Linked DNA regions of Homo sapiens: region 1 is linked to region 2. The links come from fine-mapping of genetic effects on gene expression. Tissue or cell type: naive CD8 T cells. Region 2 holds a variant in brackets; the other region holds the start of a gene. All regions are shown on one strand. Distances are from middle to middle. Region 1 holds the start of ACACB (acetyl-CoA carboxylase beta). Region 2 overlaps ACACB (acetyl-CoA carboxylase beta).

Evidence for each region.
Region 1: it holds the start of ACACB, and the variant in region 2 is fine-mapped to the expression of ACACB in naive CD8 T cells (Schmiedel 2018, PIP 0.93).

The regions. Positions count from the first base shown.
Region 1 is chr12:109,113,902-109,119,278 of GRCh38, forward strand. It overlaps ACACB (acetyl-CoA carboxylase beta), which reads left to right and starts at 2,686. Exons shown (of 53, transcript NM_001093.4): 1 at 2,686-2,803. LOC105369974 (a long non-coding RNA gene) reads right to left here. Exons shown (of 3, transcript XR_945332.3): 3 at 4,753-4,883.
Region 2 is chr12:109,135,802-109,141,178 of GRCh38, forward strand. ACACB (acetyl-CoA carboxylase beta) reads left to right here. Exons shown (of 53, transcript NM_001093.4): 2 at 3,596-4,257. The coding sequence starts at 3,605. Among named protein-coding and RNA genes, the nearest start is that of ACACB, 22 kb to the left of the region's middle. The variant C/CT (reference allele first, on the strand shown) is at 2,098.

The DNA of each region.
Region 1 (5,377 bases), 22 kb before region 2:
TGTTTAGAGTCCTTCTGACACTGTAATTTGGGTCTGACAACAGGAAGTTCCTTTGTAGTTTAAGTCAATGGGAACCAATTTTTTTTTCTTTTTTTTGCGATAGAGTCTCACTCTGTTTCTTAAGATGGAGTACAGTGACTCAGTCATGGCTCACTGCAGCCTCAACTTCCTGGGTTCAGGTGATCCTCCTGCCTCAGCCTCCTGAGCAGCTGGGACCACTGGTATGCACCACCATACCTGGCTAAGTTTTTAATAGAAATGGGGTCTTGCTAAGTTGCCCAGGCTAGGGAACCAGTTTTTAAGTTTTTGAAATATGCTTGGAAATATAAATATTGGTGAGCGGAGCAGACCAGGAGATCAATAATTTATGTTCTCTGCTTGTTAGTTGTGTATATAGCATGTTCTTTTGTCTCTCTTAATGATGTTTGGGGTGAGGGTGTGGGAGAGGAAGGTAGGGAGCCTTCCAACAAGAAGCTAGTGCTCCTCCAGCCTAGAGAAGCTAAAACATGCAAAGCCAGACCCCATCCCTGGAAATTCTGATTTAATTGGTGGGGGAAGGCATGTGAATTCTCACAGAGGGTCCGGTTTGCAGCAGGACTGGTGATTTCTTTCCAGGTGCCTTGTTTTGTTAGACCATGTGGTCACTTAATAATTTTTTTTGGGCCAGGTACAGTGGCTCATACCTGTAATCCCAGTGCTTTAGGAGGCAAGGCAAGAAGATCGCTTTAGGCCAGGAGTTCAAGACCAACTTGGGCAACATAATGAGACCTTGTCTTTAAAAAAAAAAAATTTTTTTTTTTTTAATTAGCCAGGGGTGGTGTGTGCCTGTAGTTCTAGCTACTTGGGAAGCTGAGGCAGGAGGATCATTTGAGCCCAGGAGTTCGAGGCTGCAGTGAGCTATGATCATGCCACTGCACTCCATCCAGCCTGGGCAACAGAGCAAGATCCTATTTCTAAAACAAAACAAAACAAAACAAAAAATGTAACTTGATACCTGTGACTTTCTGAAACTAACAGCTGTTTGAAGAAATATATTTCTATTACCGTTCTTGTGTTTGATGGAAAGAGTTTATGAATAACTTTGGTTTCAAGCCTTCCAATTATATTCTGGAAAATACCTGTGTCTTAAAGAGATAGTGTCTAGGGAGAACTGAATCACTGCAGAGTTCTTCACCTGTATGTGTGGGTATGTCTAGTCTTTTTGCAAGTAATGAATTTCATTAGAAAGATATTAAGTGCTTGTCATGAGCAAGCCCCTGTGCCAGAAACTCAATATAAATCATTTCATTTTCTCACCCATATGGTGAAGTAGTTGATGAGGACACTGAAGCTCAGCCATTTGCTCAAAGTCATGGCTAATGGAGGGAGGATTCAAACCCACATCAGCTTGATTTCAAAGCCTAATAGTCCTGCCACTGTCAACACCCTGCCTAGATCATGATTATTTGGAATCACTGGGAAAGAATTTTTTTTTCATGAAGTTAGAAGCCTAAGAATTTTTTTCAATGGAATTTTATAAAAATGTCCTTGAATCACAGATGGCTCTCCCTGGAAACATAGGTTTGTTTGAGAGTCACCTCTTTTATTGTCTTAATAAATAGACTAAGAGCCATCACAAGGGCTACTGTGGCTAGAGAACATATGACTCGGGCCGGGCATTGTGCAGGCATTTGACCTGCATTCCTTCACCCCGGTTCCTGTAACATGTACCTGGTGCTGTGGGGTTACAGCTGATAATGCTGAGGTTTCCAGAGCACATGCTTCCAAGTCCAGTGGAGAAAATCCCAAGAAGTCCAATATTCAATGACTGTTCCTTATTGCAAAATAAGCCCAGAAACAAAGTAGCTGTGAACAGGCTGCACCAGCCCCAGCAGCAATTTCCATTTAAACCATTTTGCACAGATCCCGTGCTCAGCGCTCTCGCCAGTTTCTCCACTTGCTGTTTAGTAAGGCCATCATTGTTGGCAGGAAGTGGGTTCCACCTTCCCTGTTGCCTGAGCACAATGTGCTCCTATGTGGTCTCCACTTTCCTGCTGCCTAGTTGGCTGGGCTTCTCCAGCTGGGCCTTGGAGGCGACCTTTGTCCCACATGCCAGCCCTCCCCACGTTGCAGAACACTATGTAACTGCAGCGTGTGCTGAATTTCCTCTTCTGTGCTCAACCCTAGCAAGAGCCAGTCAACCCTGAATGAGAATGTGGCAATGGAGCTGTTTTTTTCTTTTATCCCCAAGTCACAAGAAATTGGAAACATTCCATTAAGTGGCGTGATTTGAGAGGGTTTCGCCAAATCTTTTCAGGGGAGAGAAGCCAGGTGACCTGATAGCGATCACCTTCCCATTCACGGTTTTCAATGGGGGCTTGTTTCTCAAATGACCAACACCTGTAGGCAGTTAATTTTCAGCATGTCACAGGAGGGCCCAGATGACTTTCTGCCTACTGCTTACGACAACATGGACTTTAGATGCCTCATGGCTTCAACAGCTAAGAATTATGAAATAAAGCGAGTTATGGGATTAAAAGGCAGATAGCAGAACTCTCCCAGGAGTAGCCAGGGCTGCACAAGTGGTTTGACGTGGGATCTTTCTCATCTTTGCCCCGGGTTGTTGCTGCTTTGAAGGTTAAGTGCTCCAGGGATATTTTTAAACAGCAGGGGCTGATTAATCTAAAAGTGACATTTGCAGTCCCCAGAGTAAGCAGCTAGCAGGCTTAGATTCAGGCCCTCAGCAAACAAGGAACCTGGAAAATGTAACCCTGAATGCACGGTGGGGAGGACATGGCAAGAGAAAAGCGGCAGGAATAAAGTGGTAAGTCAGCTCGCCCCTCCCCGGGGTCCGGACCATTCTGCCAACGTCCAGGTAAATTCGAACCCAATGTATAGTGAGAGCAGACCCTGTCTGAAGGCATGCACTTGGGGTCCCCGGGGAAAAACGACTCCCGTCATGTTTGAAGGAAGCTAATCAGAAGAGCTCGAAATGTAACGCAGATGAAAGAGAAGGGCCTTTCTTTGCTTCTATAAATGGTGGTGTGGATCCCTGGACATGCTCCCATATAAGTTCCACAACGTTTTATAAACAATTCTGTTTTTTGCCTCCAAAGCTACTGTCTTAAGGAATAGTATTCTGTTTCTGTTTCCTCAAATGGTTGTTCTTTTTTTTTTTTTTTTTTTTTTTAAAGCAGACTAAGGCTGGGCACGGTGGCTCATGCCACCCAGCACCTTGGGAGGCAGAGGCAGGTGGATCACTTGAGGTCAGGAGTTCGAGACCAGCCTGGCCAACATGGCGAAACCCCATCTGTACTAAACACATAAAAATTAGCCAGATGTGGTGATGGGCACCTGTAATCCCAGCTACTTGGGAGGCTGAGGCAGGAGAATCGCTTGAACCCAGGAGGTGGGGGTTGCAGTGAGCTAAAATTGCGCCACTGCATTCCAGCCTGACTGACAGAGCAAGACTCTGTCTCAAAAAAAAAAAAAAAGAAAAGAAAAAGAAAAAAAGGAGACTAAGAGTAAAGCGTTTGTAGTGGTCCTATATCCTATATTTCTAGGAAGACATGACTTTCTTTCAATGTTGAAAAAATGCATTCCAAAATAATATGCAAGTTAAAAAGTCACTCAGCACCGTGCAAAAGTCTCCTTGCTGTTATTCCTGTCTAACCCTCCTCCTCCAGGTAGCCACTGTGCACATTTTGGTATAAACCCCCCAGACCTTTTATTCTGTACACTCACACTGTACACAACTCTCTCCCTCATGTCTATTGTGATTACTTTTATTTTTTAATATCAATGGGCATCCATATAGGTTGGGTGACCAACCATCCCACTTTGCCCAGGACCGGGGAATTCCCGGGACATGGGACTTGCAATTTAAAAACTGAAAGGTGAAGATATTATTATTATCATTATTATTTGAGATGGAGTGCTCACTGCAAGCTCCGCCTCCTGGGTTCACGCCATTCTCCTGCCTCAGCCTCCCAAGTAGCTGGGACTACAGGCACCCACTACCACGCCCGGCTAATTTTTTTTGTATTTTTAGTAGAGACAGGGTTTCACTGTGTTAGCCAGGATGGTCTCGATCTCCTGACCTCAAGTGATCCGCCCGCCTCGGCCTCCCAGAGTGCTGGGATTACAGGCATGAGCCACCGCGCCTGGCCAAAGATATCATTTTATAAATTGCATGTTTCTGCTAATAGTGACATGGAGTTCTTTACAAGATTTCTTTTTATGACTTCTCCAAGTTTTAAGTGGAAAGACCCAGCCAATCCTAATTCATGTGATTTAGAGATGAAAATATCTCTAATCTGTAACTTTCTTTCAGAAGCTCTTAAGAGTTTTATTTGCTCCTGCTCAGGTGTTGTGTAAACTCGCTCATACTTTCAACACCTTTAGGTCTGAGACAGAAATTTGAGTATTACATTACATGAGATACCCAGTCTTCATGGGGAAATAAACATTTTAATCTTTTGAAATGGAGGTTTCCTTGAAGTCTTATCCCAGTAGAAACTTTGACCTTGTTCTTTTTTTTTTTTTTTTTTTGAGACAGAGTCTCGTCCTGTCACCCAGGCTGGAGTGCGATGGCACAATCTCAGCTCACTGCAACCCCTGCCTCCCAGGTTCAAGCAATTCCTCAGTCTCAGTCTCCCGAGTAGCTGGGATTGCAGGCAAGCACTACCACGCCCAGCTAATTTTTGTATTTTTAGTAGAGATGGGGTTTTGCCATGTTGGCCAGGCTGGTCTCGAACTCCTGACCTCAAGTGATCTGCTCACCTTGGCCTCCCAAAGTGCTGGGATTACGGGCATGAGCCACTGCACCCGGCCTGGAATACCTTGTTCTCATGCTTCCTCTGAATTTGTGATTCAGTGACTTGTTACTTCAAAGTAGAGTTCACCTGTACCCAGGGAAACCAGGAAACAGAGTTAGAAATATTGCATTTGATCGGAAAAATGTATGCACATTTCACATCCTATCCTAATAGATCTCTCTGTTTGCAGTGATAATAGTAAATTTATGACCGTAGAGTAAGGTGATTTTCTAGGAAGATAGACCGTGTTCATTTATTCCAGGAATCCAGGGATCCTTGTATCAGAGAATCCAGGCTGGGCACAGCAGAGAAACCAAGGTATTGATTATTGGGTAGTTGGCATACCCCAGGTATGCCATAATAATTATGGGATCTCACATAATTTTGAGGACAATCCTAGGAAGGAGATTTTATTTATTCCATTCCACAGGCCAGGAAACCAAGGTTCAGAGAATTTCCATGATGGGCTCAGGCCAATCAGATAACAAATGGCAAAGCCTCCACCCAAGTCTGCTGTACTCCAGAAGTCCTGCTCTCTGGGCTCATACCTTAGCCACTCTGACCCTTGCTGGGGCCCCAGA
Region 2 (5,377 bases):
GTAATACTTTTTTTTTTTTTTTTTTTGAGACGGAGTCTTGCTCTGTCGCCCAGGCTGGAGTGCAGTGGTGCGATCTCGGCTCACTGCAAGCTCTGCCTCCCGGGTTCACGCCATTCTCCTTCCTCAGTCTCCCAAGTAGCTGGGACTACAGGTGCCTGCCACCATGCCTGGCTAAATTTTTTTGTATTTTTAGTAGAGATGGGGTTTCACCATGTTAGCCAGGATAGTCTTGATCTCCTGACCTCGTGATCCACCTGCTTCAGCCTCCCAAAGTGCTGGGATTACAGGCATGAGCCACCATGCCTGGCCTGAAGAGATCATTCTTTCTCCATTGGATGGTCTTGATATCCATGTCAAAAATAGATTGACCATAGATGTATAGGTTTCTATTCCATTGATCTATATGTCTATCTTATGCCAAATACCATGCTGTTTTGTTTACCATAGCTTTGTAGTAAGTTTTTAAATTGGGAAATGTGAATCTTCAAACATATTTTTTAAGATTGTTTTGGCTGATTGGGGCCTCTTGAAATTCCATATAAATCTGTATATTCCTTTGGATAATATGGACATCTTAACAATAAGTCTTCCAATCCATGAGCAAGGTATGTCTTTCCATTTATTTAATTCTTCTTTAATTTCTTTTAGTAATGTTTTGTAGTTTTCAGTGTGCAGGTCTTTCACTTCTTTGGTTAAATTTATTCCTAGGTAGGAAACAAGTGTGATAGGCAATAATAGAAAAAGGAAACATTGAAATTAAACATATTTATTTCTAGGTGTTTTATTCTTTTGAATGCTATTATAAATGGAATTGTTTTCTTAATTTCTTTTTCAGATTATTTACCACTGGTGTATAGAAACACAACTATTTTTGTGTATTTATCTTGTATCCTGCAACTTTGCTTAATTATTTTTATTACCTCTACAATACCAAGGTTTTCTGTGTGTGTATTATCTGGCACTTTCTACATATAGGACCATGTAATCTGTGAATAGGGGTGGCTTTACTTCTTCCTTCCTAATCTCTATGTCTTTTATTTCATTTTATTGTCTAATTGGTTTGTCTAGAACTTCCAGTACAGTGTTGAATAGCACTGGTGAAAGTGGGCATCCTTGTCTTATTCCTGGTTAAAGCTATCAGCCTTTCCCCATTTAGTATGATGTTAGCTGTGGATTTTTCATAAATGTACTTTATTAAGTTGCAGTTCCCTTCTGTTCCTAATTTTCTGAATGTTGTTATCATGAAAGGGTGTTGGATTTTGTCAAATGCTTTTCCTGCATCAATTGGGATGATCATGTGGTTTTTTTCCCTTTGTTCCATTAATGTGGCATGTTACATTGACATTGAGCCACCCTTGACTGACTTTTCTTTAAAAAAAACACATGATGATCTTGAAAGGAAAAAACCCCTCTGACCCTGTGTACTACCTAGAAAATAGCCTTGGCAACATATCAGCAAATTCTGCTGCTGAAAGTGTGTAAGAAGTACTTGGATTGTTTAGTTCTGGGAAATATTGAGAACTTTTCCACTTCCTTTAAAAACATTGTGTTGAAATTTAAAAAGAAAAAGCTTTATGGCAGGGCACAGTGTCTCACGCCTGTAATCCTAGCACTTTGGGAGGCAGAGGTGGGCGGATCACTTGAGGTCAGGAGTTAGACACCAGCCTAGCCAACATGGTGAAACCCCATCTTTACAAAAAATACAAAAATTAGCCGGGCATGGTGGGGGGCACCTGTAATCCCAGCTACTAGGGAGGCTGAGGCTCAAGAATCTCTTGAACCCAGGAGGCAGAGGTTGCAGTGAGCTGAGATTACGCCACTATGCTCCCACCTGGGCGACAGGGTCAGATTCTGACTCAAAAAAAAAAAAAGGATTTTTAGATACCAAATTGACCTGCTGAGCTTTGTGGTCCACTTTTGTAATGCTTCTAGTATATAATTGTGGCAAAATTGGTTCAGAAATTTCAACACATAGAGAGAGGTCCCATTTAAAAATTTTTTTTGAAATAGGGTCTCACTCTGTTGTCCAGGCTGGAGTGCAGTGGTGCCATCTTAGCTCATTTCAACCTCTGCCTCCTGGGCTTTTCTTTTCTTTTT[C/CT]TTTTTTTTTTTGTTTTTGAGACCAAGTCTCACTCTGTTGCCCGGGCTGGAATGCAGTTGCATGATCTCAGCTCACTGCAACCTCCACCTCCAGGTTCAAGTGATTCTCATGCCTCAGACTCCCGAGTAGCTGGAATTACAGGCACCCACCTCCATGCCCAGCTAATTTTTGTATTTTTATTTTTAGTACAGACAGGGCTTCACCATGTTGGCCAGGCTGGTCTCAAACTCCCAACCTCAGGTGATCTGCCCGCCTCAGCCTCCCAAAGTGCTGGGATTACAGGCATGAGCCACCGCACTGGGCTCATTTTTAAAACAAGATTTCCTTCAAATAACAATGATCTACTCATTAGTAGGGCAGAGTTAGGGTGATAGAAAGAGGTGTGGCTTAGAGATTGGAATACCTGGGTTCATTCTTTCAATACACACTTGTAAGCCCTCATTGCATACCAGGCACTGGTCTAGACCCTGCAACAGAAAACAGTCTCCCGAGGCTTGTTGGGCTTCTATGCTAGTTGTAAGCATACCCCACACTGGGGATGATGGCGCCCTTCCTCCCTCCAGGGCCATGATGGTGACTGACTATATGATAATAATACTAGAATGATGATGATGATGACAGAAGCAACAATTCCCTTTCATTTATAAAGTGGAATATAATTAAGAGTCTTTAAAAAAAAAAAATAACAGCTTTGGCTGGGCGCGGTGGGTCACGTCTGTAATCCTAGCACTTTGGGAAGCCAAGGTCAGGAGTTAGAGAGCAACCTGGTCAACATGGTGAAATTCTGTCTCCACAAAAATACAAAAATTAGCTAGGCATGGTGGTGCATGCCTGTAGCCCAAGCTACTCAGGAGGCTGAGGCAGAATTGCTTGAACCCAGGAGGCGGAGTTTGCAGTGAGCAGAGATTGCGGCACTGCACTCCAGCCTGGGCAACAAAGGGAGACTGCATCTCAAAACAAAAAAACAAAAAAACCCCAGCTTTATTGAGAGATAATTCACATGGCATACAATCCACTCATGTAAAGGACAAGTCAATGTTTTTTAACTGTATTCACAGAGCTGTACAACCATCACCTCAATCTGCTTTAGAACATTTTCATCATCCCAAACAGAAACCCTACACTCTGTAGCCATCATCCCCATCCCACTAGGTCCTGGCAACCACTAATCTGTTTTCTGTCTCTCAAGATTGGCCTGTTCTGCACACTTCATATACTTGGAATCGTATAATATGTGACCTTTTGTGATTGGCTTCTTTAACTTAGCAGTTTTCAAGGTTCTTCCTTGAACCTTGGCAGGAAACTAAGATCCAGAGGGGTGAAGGAATATGTCCAAGCCTGTTTCAGGCAGAGCAGGGAGGAGAACCCCATCTCTCCCCTCGTCCAGTATTTCAGGAATACACAGCACCCCAACAGCCTCCTGCCCCACTAGCTTCTTTAGGAGAGAAATCACTTGATTATGTAAATCCTAAAATGTCTCTCCTTTTCTCCTTACAGATTTTCTGAATGGTCTTGCTTCTTTGTCTATCTTGTCTGATTTTCTCCTGTCTGACCTTTTCCTGGTTAAAAATCTGGGGGAAAATGACGGACTCCAAGCCGATCACCAAGAGTAAATCAGAAGCAAACCTCATCCCGAGCCAGGAGCCCTTTCCAGCCTCTGATAACTCAGGGGAGACACCGCAGAGAAATGGGGAGGGCCACACTCTGCCCAAGACACCCAGCCAGGCCGAGCCAGCCTCCCACAAAGGCCCCAAAGATGCCGGTCGGCGGAGAAACTCCCTACCACCCTCCCACCAGAAGCCCCCAAGAAACCCCCTTTCTTCCAGTGACGCAGCACCCTCCCCAGAGCTTCAAGCCAACGGGACTGGGACACAAGGTCTGGAGGCCACAGATACCAATGGCCTGTCCTCCTCAGCCAGGCCCCAGGGCCAGCAAGCTGGCTCCCCCTCCAAAGAAGACAAGAAGCAGGCAAACATCAAGAGGCAGCTGATGACCAACTTCATCCTGGGCTCTTTTGATGACTACTCCTCCGACGAGGACTCTGTTGCTGGCTCATCTCGTGAGTCTACCCGGAAGGGCAGCCGGGCCAGCTTGGGGGCCCTGTCCCTGGAGGCTTATCTGACCACAGGTGAAGCTGAGACCCGCGTCCCCACTATGAGGTAATGTGCATTTTCTCCTTGTAACTGAGGAGTGCAGAGTTCAGGTGGGGTCCACACCCTTCCCAACCTGTGCCCACCTTGATCAAGCTGTTTGCTGATGCCAAAGCTTCAAGGGTGGCTATGCACAAAAGGAGAAGACACGAGCCTTCTCAGAAGTTTCCTTCCTTCCTTCCTTCCTTCCTTCCTTCCTTCCTTCCATCCTTCCTTCCTTCTTTCCTTCCTTCCTTCCTTCCTTCCTTCCTTCCTTCCTTCCTTCCTTCCTTCCTTCCTTCCTTCCTTCCTTCCTTCCTTCCCTCCTTTCAAAATCATTCCTTGAGGCTGGGCACAGTGGCTCATGCCTGTAATCCCAGCACTTTGGGAGGCCAAGGCAGGCAGATCACTTGAGGTCGGGAGTTTAAGACTAGCCTGGCCAACATGGTGAAACTCCGTTTCTACTAAAAATACAAAAATTCACCAGGCATGCAGGCGTGTGCCTGTAATCCCAGCTGCTTGGAAGGCTGAGGCGGGAGAATCTCTTGAACCCAGGAAGTGGAGGTTGCAGTGAGCTGAGATCACGTCACTGCACTCCAGCCTGGGTGACAGGGCGAGACCTTGTCTCAAAAAAGGAAAAAAGGAAAGAAATCATTCCTTGTGCATCTACTGCATGCACAGGGCTCGATGCCATGAAACTGACTTTCTAGAAGACCTCAGCCTAGTTGGGGAAGATGACCTTGTGTTTAGTTATAATTTAAGCTGAATGAGCCAAGGCTGGCAAGAGCCACAAGTGATGATGGTAGTCTAGAGGGAGGGGCAGTTCTCTCTGCCTCCTGAAGAGACATTGATTCATTCATTCTTTTTTTTTTTTTTTTTTTTTTTTGAGACAGGGTCTTACTCTGTCACTCTGTTAGCTGAGTGTACTGGTAGGATCATAGCTCACTACAACCTCAAACTCCCGGGCTCAAGCAATCCTCCCACCTCAGTGCACTCCTGGGTAGCTGGGACTACAGGTGTGCACCACCACACCTAGCTAATTTTTAAATTTTTTATAGAAATGGGAATCTCACCATATTGCCCAGGCTGGTCTCCAACTCCTGGACTCAAGCGATCCTCGGTCTCCCAAAGTGCTGGGATTACAGGCATG